Linked DNA regions of Homo sapiens. The protein of the gene in region 2 interacts with the protein of the main gene of each other region in a pairwise test. Each region holds a gene or a part of one and is shown on either strand. Other genes may lie near its edges.

Region 1 (3,806 bases), on a different chromosome or scaffold from region 2:
CGCAAATCAAAACTACAATGAGATATCATCTTACCCCAGTTAAAATGGCCTTTATCCAAAAGACAGGCTACAACAAATGCTAGCAAGGATGTAGAGAAAAGGGAACCCTCATACACTGTTGGCAGGAATGTAAATTAGTACAACCACTATGAAGAACAGTTTGAAGGTTCTTCAAAAAACTAAAAATAACTAGAATCCAGCAGCCCAGACCCCTTTCTTTGTGGTCAAGAAAGGCGGGAAAACAGGTGCAGGACTGCTACATTGGGGAGCGTAACTAATCCGATAGGCAGAGGTCCGTGGGGAGTTACGCACCCTGGAAAGGAACTCACCCCTGAGCACAAAGGCAATTTTGGGCACGCTGGTAAAGGACCACTAGAATCCAGCAGTCCAGACCCTTTTCTTTGTGGTCAAGAGAGGCGGGAAAACAGGTGCAGGACTGCTACATCGGTAAGCGTAACTAATCCGATAAGCAGAGGTCCATGGGTGGTTACGCACCCTGGAAAAGAATAAGCATTAGGCCCTTACAGGACGCTCTAGGACTAATGCTCATTGGAAAATGACTAGGGGTGCTGGCATCCCTCTGTTCTTTTTTCAGATGGGAAACGTTCTCCCCCACAAGGCAAAAACGCCCCTAAGATGTATTCTGGAGAATGGGACCAATCTGACCCTCAGACACTAAGAAAGAAATGACTTATACTCTTCTGCAGTACCGCCTGGCCACGATATCCTCTTCAAGGGGGAGAAACCTGGCCTCGTGAGGGAAGTATAGATTATAACACCATCCTACAGCTAGACCTCTTCTGTAGAAAGGAGGGCAAATGGAGTGAAGTGCCATATGTGCAAACTTTCTTTTCATTAAGAGACAACTCGCAATTATGTAAAAAGTGTGGTTTATGCCCTACAGGAAGCCCTCAGAGTCTACCTCCCTATTCCAGTGTCCCCCCGACTCCTTCCCCAACTAACAAGGACCCCCCTTTAACCCAAACGGTCCAAAGGAGACAGACAAAGGGGTAAACAATGAACCAGAGTGCCAATATTCCCCGATTATGCCCCCTCCAAGCAGTGGGAGGAGGAGAATTCGGCCCAGCCAGAGTGCATGTACCTTTTTCTGTCTCAGACTTAAAGCAAATTAAAATAGATCTAGGTAAATTCTCAGATAACCCTGATGGCTATATTGACGTTTTACAAGGGTTAGGACAATCCTTTGATCTGACATGGAGAGATATAATGTTACTGCTAGATCAGACACTAACCCCAAATGAGAGAAGTGCCGCCATAACTGCAGCCCGAGAGTTTGGCAATCTCTGGTATCTCAGTTAGGTCAATGATAGGATGACAACAGAGGAAAGAGAACGATTCCCCACAGGCCAGCAGGCAGTTCCCAGTGTAGACTCTCACTGGGACACAGAATCAGAACATGGAGATTGGTGCCGCAGACATCTGCTAACTTGCGTGCTAGAAGGACTAAGGAAAACTAGGAAGAAGCCTATGAATTATTCAATGATGTCCACTGTAACACAGGGAAAGGAAGAAAATCCTACTGCCTTTCTGGATAGACTAAGAGAGGAATTAAGGAAGCATACCTCCCTGTCACCTGACTCCATTGAAGGCCAACTAATCTTAAAGGACAAGTTTATCAGTCAGCTGCAGACATTAGGAAAAAACTTCAAAAGTCCGCCTTAGGCCCAGAGCAAAACTTAGAAACTCTACTGAACTTGGCAACCTTGTTTTTTTATAATAGAGATCAGGAGGAGCAGGCGGAACAGGACAAACGGGATTAAAAAAAAAAAGGCCACCGCTTTAGTCATGGCCCTTAGGCAAGTGGACTTTGGAGGCTCTGGAAAAGGGAAAAGCTGGGCAAATCGAATGCCTAAAAGGGCTTGCTTCCAGTGCGGTCCGCAAGGACACTTTAAAAAAGATTGTCCAAGTAGAAATAAGCCGCCCCCTTGTCCATGCCCCTTATGTCAAGGGAATCACTGGAAGGCCCACTACCTCAGGAGACGAAGGTCCTCTGAGACGAAGGTCTCAGGAGACGAAGGTCCTGCTGAACCAGATGATCCAGCAGCAGGACTGAGGGTGCCCGGGGAAAGCGCCAGCCCATGCCATCACCCTCACAGAGCCCTGGGTATGCTTTACCACTGAGGGCCAGGAGGTTAACTGTCTCCTGGACACTGGCACGGCCTTCTCAGTCTTACTCTCCTGTCCTGGACAACTGTCCTCCAGATCTGTCACTATCCGAGGGGTCCTAGGACAGCCAGTCACTAGATACTTCTCCCAGCCACTAAGTTGTGACTGGGGAACTTTACTCTTTTCACATGCTTTTCTAATTACGCCTGAAAGCCCCACTCCCTTGTTAAGGAGAGACATTCTAGCAAAAGTAGGGGTCATTATACACCTGAACATAGGAGAAGGAACACCCGTTTGTTGTCCCCTGCTTGAGGAAGGAATTAATCCTGAAGTCTGGGCAACAGAAAGACAACATGGACGAGCAAAGAATGCCCATCCTGGTCAAGTTAAACTAAAGGATTCCACCTCCTTTCCCTACCAAAGGCAGTACCCCCTTAGACCCGAGGCCCAACAAGGACTCCAAAAGATTGTTAAGGACCTAAAAGCCCAAGGCCTAGTAAAACCATGCAATAGCTCCTGCAATACTCCAAATTTAGGAGTACAGAAACCCAACAGACAGTGGAGGTTAGTGCAAGATCTCAGGATTATGAATGAGGCTGTTGTTCCTCTATACCCAGCTGTACCTAACCCTTATACTCTGCTTTCCCAAATACCAGAGGAAGCAGAGCGGTTTACAGTCCTGGACCTTAAGGATGCCTTTTTCTGCAACCCTGTACATCCTGACTCTCAATTCTTGTTTGCCTTTGAAGAGCCTTCGAACCCAACGTCTTAACTCACCTGGACTGTTTTACCCCAAGGGTTCAGGGATAGCCCCAACTATTTGGCTAGGAATTAGCCCAAGACTTGAGCCAATTTTCATACCTGGACACTCTTGTCCTTCGGTACGCGGATGATTTACTTTTGGCCGCCCATTCAGAAACCTTGTGCCACCAAGCCACCCAAGCGCTCTTAAATTTCCTCGCCACCTGTGGCTACAAGGTTTCCAAACCAAAGGCTCAGCTCTGCTCACAGCAGTTTAAATACTTAGGGCTAAAATTATCCAAAGGCACCAGGGCCCTCAGTGGGGAATGTATCCAGCCTATACTGCTTATCCTCATCCCCAAACCCTAAAGCAACTAAGAGGGTTCCTTGGCATAACAGGTTTCTGCCGAATATGGATTCCCAGGTACGGCAAAATAGCCAGACCATTATATACACTAATTAAGGAAACTCAGAAAGCCAATACCCATTTAGTAAGATGGACACCTGAAGCAGAAGTGGCTTTCCAGGCCCTAAAGAAGGCCCTAACCCAAGCCCCAGTGTTAAGCTTGCCAATAGGGCAAGACTTTTCTTTATATATCACAAAAAAACAGGAATAGCTCTAGGAGTCCTTACACAGGTCCGAGGGACGAGCTTGCAACCGTGGCATACCTGAGTAAGAAAACTGATGTAGTGGCAAAGGGTTGGCTTCATTGTTTATAGGTAGTGGCTGCAGTTGCAGTCTTAGTATCTGAAGCAGTTAAAATAATACAGGGAAGAGATCTTACTGTGTGGACACCTCATGATGTGAATGGTATACTCACTGCTAAAGGAGACTTGTGGCTCTCAGACAACCATTTACTTAAATATCAGGCTCTATTACTTGAAGGGCCAGTGTTGCGACTGTGCACTTGTGCAACTCTTAACCCAGCCACATTTCT
Region 2 (4,360 bases):
AGCTGAGATCACACCACTGGACTCCAGCCTGGGCGACAGAGTGAGACAACGTGTCAAAAAAAAAAAAAAAGTTAGCTTGACCCCACTCCAGGAATGACCAAGCAAGGGCAGTTTGGAGATTAAAGGCAAGATGGAGTTGGTTAGGTCAGAGCTCTTTCACTGACATAATTTTCTGTCATAATTTTTGCAAAGGCAGTTTCAAGCCAGTACTCAGATTCCCATAGCCCTTTGCCCTGCCATGATCCTTTGAGGCTGAGGTGGGAGAATCACTTGAACCCCGGAGTTCCAGAGCAGCCTGGGCAACATAGTGAGACCCTCATCTCTGCAATGAACAATTATCTGGGTGTGGTGGCACAGGCCTGTAGTACCAGCTACCTGGGAAGATCTCTTGAGCCCAGTAGGTTGAGGCTGCAGTGAACTGTGATGGAGTCACTGCATTCTAGCCTGGGTGAGAAACCATTATCCTGTCTCAAAACGACAAAAAACAAACATACAGTCACCTCTTTGCTAGCTCAGGGGATCCTGGAGAAAACGTGCAGAATGAAAAAGGAGAGTCTGGGTGGCGTGGATTACATGCCTGTAATCCCAGCACTTTGGGAGGCAAGACAGGTGGATCCCTTGAGCTCAGGAGTTCAGCCTGAGCCACATGGTGAAACCGTGTTTCAAAAAAAAAACTACAAAAATTAGCTGGGCATAGTGGCATGTGCCCGTGATCCCAGCTACTCGGGAGGCTGAGGTGAGAGGATCACTTGAGCTGGGGAGGCAGAGGTTGCAGTGAGCCAAGATTGCGCCACTGCACTCCGGCCTGGGCAACAGAGCGAGATATTGTCCGGGAAAAAAAAAAAAAAAAAAGGAAGGAAAAAAAAAAAGAAAGAAAAAGGGGAAGATACACTGGAACACAAATGCTTCTTAAGGGGCGCAGTGGCTCACTTCTGCAATCTTGGCACTTTCGGGGGCCGAGGCTGGTGGATCACGAGGTCAGGAGTTCGAGACCAGCCTAGTCAACATGGAAAAACCCCGTCTCTACTAAAACTACAAAAATTAGCCGGGCGTGGTGTCGGGCGCCTGTAATCCCAGCTACTCGGGAGGCTGAGGCAGGATAATCGCTTTAATCAGGAAGGCGGAGGTTGCAGTGAACCGAGATCGTGCCATTGCACTCCAGCCTGGGCGACAAGAGTGAAACTCCGTCTCAAAAAAAAAAAAAAAAAAAAAAAAAAAAAAAGAGGAAGAACAAAGGTCCCAAGAGTTGGACCCAGGTTGTAGGGCTGGAATAAAAAATAAAATACAAACTTGTGCCTGATCCAGAAACCCGGGCGGGAGTTGGGTCAGACAGAAGAGCGTGGGCTGGGATTAGCTACCACGAAAAGGAACGGTGGCCAGGCTCCAGGAGACGCTGGAGCGCCGGGCCCGTCGTGGGCGTGGTCTGGGCAGACTCAGCGTTGCCTTTTGCCTCTCCAAAACGCAGCATCGCGTCTCGGGGGAGGAGTCTGTACCCTCGTGATGTCCCCGCCCCGGTTCCCAGGCAAGTTTAGGGAAGTGAAAGGCGCCAGGTGCCAGTCCTGGCCTCTGATGTAACCCAGCGCCCCGCAGTCCCGACACAGATTCCTGGATCTCAGCCCCATAGCAGCTATGATCCCGCTGCTGCTGGCAGCGCTGCTGTGCGTCCCCGCCGGGGCCCTGACCTGCTACGGGGACTCCGGGCAGCCTGTAGACTGGTGAGTGCGCAGCGGGGGGCCTACCATCGCCCCGGGGTCCGGCTGCGGTCACTCAACCGGGATGGCTACCTCCTCGGGGAACCCTGGGGTGCCTTCTCTTCCCTCTCTCCTATTTCTGTGCATTCTCCGACCTCCAGGTTCGTGGTCTACAAGCTGCCAGCTCTTAGAGGGTCCGGGGAGGCGGCGCAGAGAGGGCTGCAGTACAAGTATCTGGACGAGAGCTCCGGAGGCTGGCGGGACGGCAGGGCACTCATCAACAGCCCGGAGGGGGCCGTGGGCCGAAGCCTGCAGCCGCTGTACCGGAGCAACACCAGCCAGGTGAAGGGGGCCCCGGGCCAACTAGGGGCGAAACTCTAGGGCTGCCCTGCCTGGGAGGAATTTCACGTTGCCTCCGTTTATCCGCCCGCAGCTCGCCTTCCTGCTCTACAATGACCAACCGCCTCAACCCAGCAAGGCTCAGGACTCTTCCATGCGTGGGCACACGAAGGGTGAGGCCTGGATTGGGGGCTGGGGAGAGACTCGGGTCCCATTTTTCCAAGGTAACCCCTGACGTGCATGGGGTGGTCGGGGAGATCTGCACTGTCAGACCCTGGGCATCTATTCCCCCCAACTTTTTTTTTTCTTTGTTTTTGAGACGGTGGGAGTTCGCTCTGTCACCCAAGCTGGAGTGCAGTGGCACAATCTTGGCTCACTGCAATCTCTGCCTCTGGGGTTGAAGCAATTCTCCTGTCTCAGCCTCCCAAGTAGCTGGTATTAAAGGCGCACCATCACACCAGGCTAATTTTCATATTTTTAGTACAGACGAGGTTTCACCATGTTGGCCAGGCTGGTCTCGAACTCCTGGTTTCTACCTCAAGTGATCTACCCGCCTTGGCCTCCCAAAGTGCTGGGATTACAGGAATGAGCCACCCTGCCCAGCCGAGTTCCTATGCATTTTTCCAAGCTAACCCCTGACCTCCATAGTGGGGTGGGAGATCTCCCCTGTCAGACCTTGGGCATCTATTTCCCCTATTTTATTTTCTTTTAGACAAGGTCTCACCCAGTCACCTAGGCTGGAGTGCAGTATCACAGCTCACTGCAGCCTTGACCTCCCAGGGCTCAGGTGATCCTCCTACCTCAGCCTCCCAAGTACTGGGCCTGCCGGTACCCCCCACCACGCCTGGCTTTTTTTTTTTTTTTTTTTTTTTGCGGCACTCTCTCTCCATCACCCAGGCTGGAGTTCGGTGGTGCAATCTCAGCTCACTGCAATCTCCATCTCCCCAGTTCAAGCGATTCTTCTGCCTCAGCCTCTGGAGTAGCTGGGATTACAGGTGTGCGCCACCATGCCCAGCTAAATGTTGTATGTTTTAGTAGAGATGGGGTTTTACCAGGTTGGACAGGCTGATATTGAACTCCTGACCTCAGGTGATCCACCTGCCTTGGCCTCCCAAAGTGCTGGGATTACAGGCGTGAGCCACCACACCTGGCCTACTTTTTGTATTTTTGTAGAGTGGGCTTTTGCCATGTTGCCTAGGCTGGTCTCTAAGTCCTGGTTCAAGCAATCCACCCACCTTGGCCTCTTAATGTGCTGCGATTACCGGCATGAGCCGCCACACCTGGCCTGTTTCCCTACCTTACATTACTCTTGGCGTTATTCTGGACTATAAGAATTTATGCCTGCAAAAACTGAGCTCAGCTGTGGTTCTAACACTGCTGGCACCCTCTCTAAGCCCCGCTGCAAACTGAGGGTGTTCCTGATTGCAGATGAGCTTGCTGGGAGGCCTGGAGCAATACCCTCTAATTGCCTTTTTTTTTTTTTTTTTTTTGAGAAGGAGTTTTGCTCTTGCTACCCAGGCTGGAGTGCAATGGTGCAATCTCGGCTCACTGCAACCTCCGCCTCCTGGGTTCAAGTGATTCTCCTGCATCAGCCTCCCGAGTAGCTGGGATTACAGGCATGCACCACCATGCCCGGCTAATGTTGTATTTTTAGTAGTGATGAGGTTTCTCCATGTTGGCCAGGCTGGTCTTGAACTCCCGACCTCAGGTGATCCGCCCTCCTCGGCTTCCCAAAGTGCTGGGATTACACTGCGTGGGGCCTGCCTTCTTTTTTTAAATTTTTATTTATTTATTTATTTATTTATTTATTTACTTACTTACTTACTTATGTTTGAGATGAAATTTTGCTCTGTGGCCCAGGCTGGAGTGCAGTGGTGGATCTCAGCTCACTGCAACCTCCACCTCCTGGGTTCAAGCGATTCTCCTGCCTCAGCCTCCTGAGTAGCTGGGATTACAGGCGTCCACCACCACGCTCAGCTAATTTTTGTATTTTTAGTAGAGATGGGGTTTCGCCATGTTGGCCAGGCTGATTTCTAACTCCTGACCTCAGGTGATCTGTGTGTCTCGGTCTCCCAAAGTGCTGGGATTACAGGCGTGAGCCACTGCGCCCGACCTCCCCTAATGCCTTCTTTTGGTCCAGGTGTCCTGCTCCTTGACCACGATGGGGGCTTCTGGCTGGTCCACAGTGTACCTAACTTCCCTCCACCGGCCTCCTCTGCTGCATACAGCTGGCCTCATAGCGCCTGTACCTACGGGCAGACCCTGCTCTGTGTGTCTTTTCCCTTCGCTCAGTTCTCGAAGATGGGTAAGTCGAGTCAGGGACACAGGAT

Evidence for each region.
Region 1: the proteins of DNASE2 (region 2) and XRN1 interact in a two-hybrid assay, tested with the Homo sapiens proteins (one large-scale study listed by BioGRID).

What each region holds. Positions count from the first base shown.
Region 1 is NC_000003.12:142,437,972-142,441,777, forward strand, and holds part of XRN1 (5'-3' exoribonuclease 1), read right to left. Parts: intron 1-3,806. UniProt on the Homo sapiens protein: Major 5'-3' exoribonuclease involved in mRNA decay. Required for the 5'-3'-processing of the G4 tetraplex-containing DNA and RNA substrates. The kinetic of hydrolysis is faster for G4 RNA tetraplex than for G4 DNA tetraplex and monomeric RNA tetraplex.
Region 2 is NC_000019.10:12,878,645-12,883,004, reverse strand, and holds the start of DNASE2 (deoxyribonuclease-2-alpha precursor), read left to right. Parts: upstream 1-1,555; 5' UTR 1,556-1,629; coding exon 1,630-1,715; intron 1,716-1,852; coding exon 1,853-2,033; intron 2,034-2,124; coding exon 2,125-2,203; intron 2,204-4,170; coding exon 4,171-4,335; intron 4,336-4,360.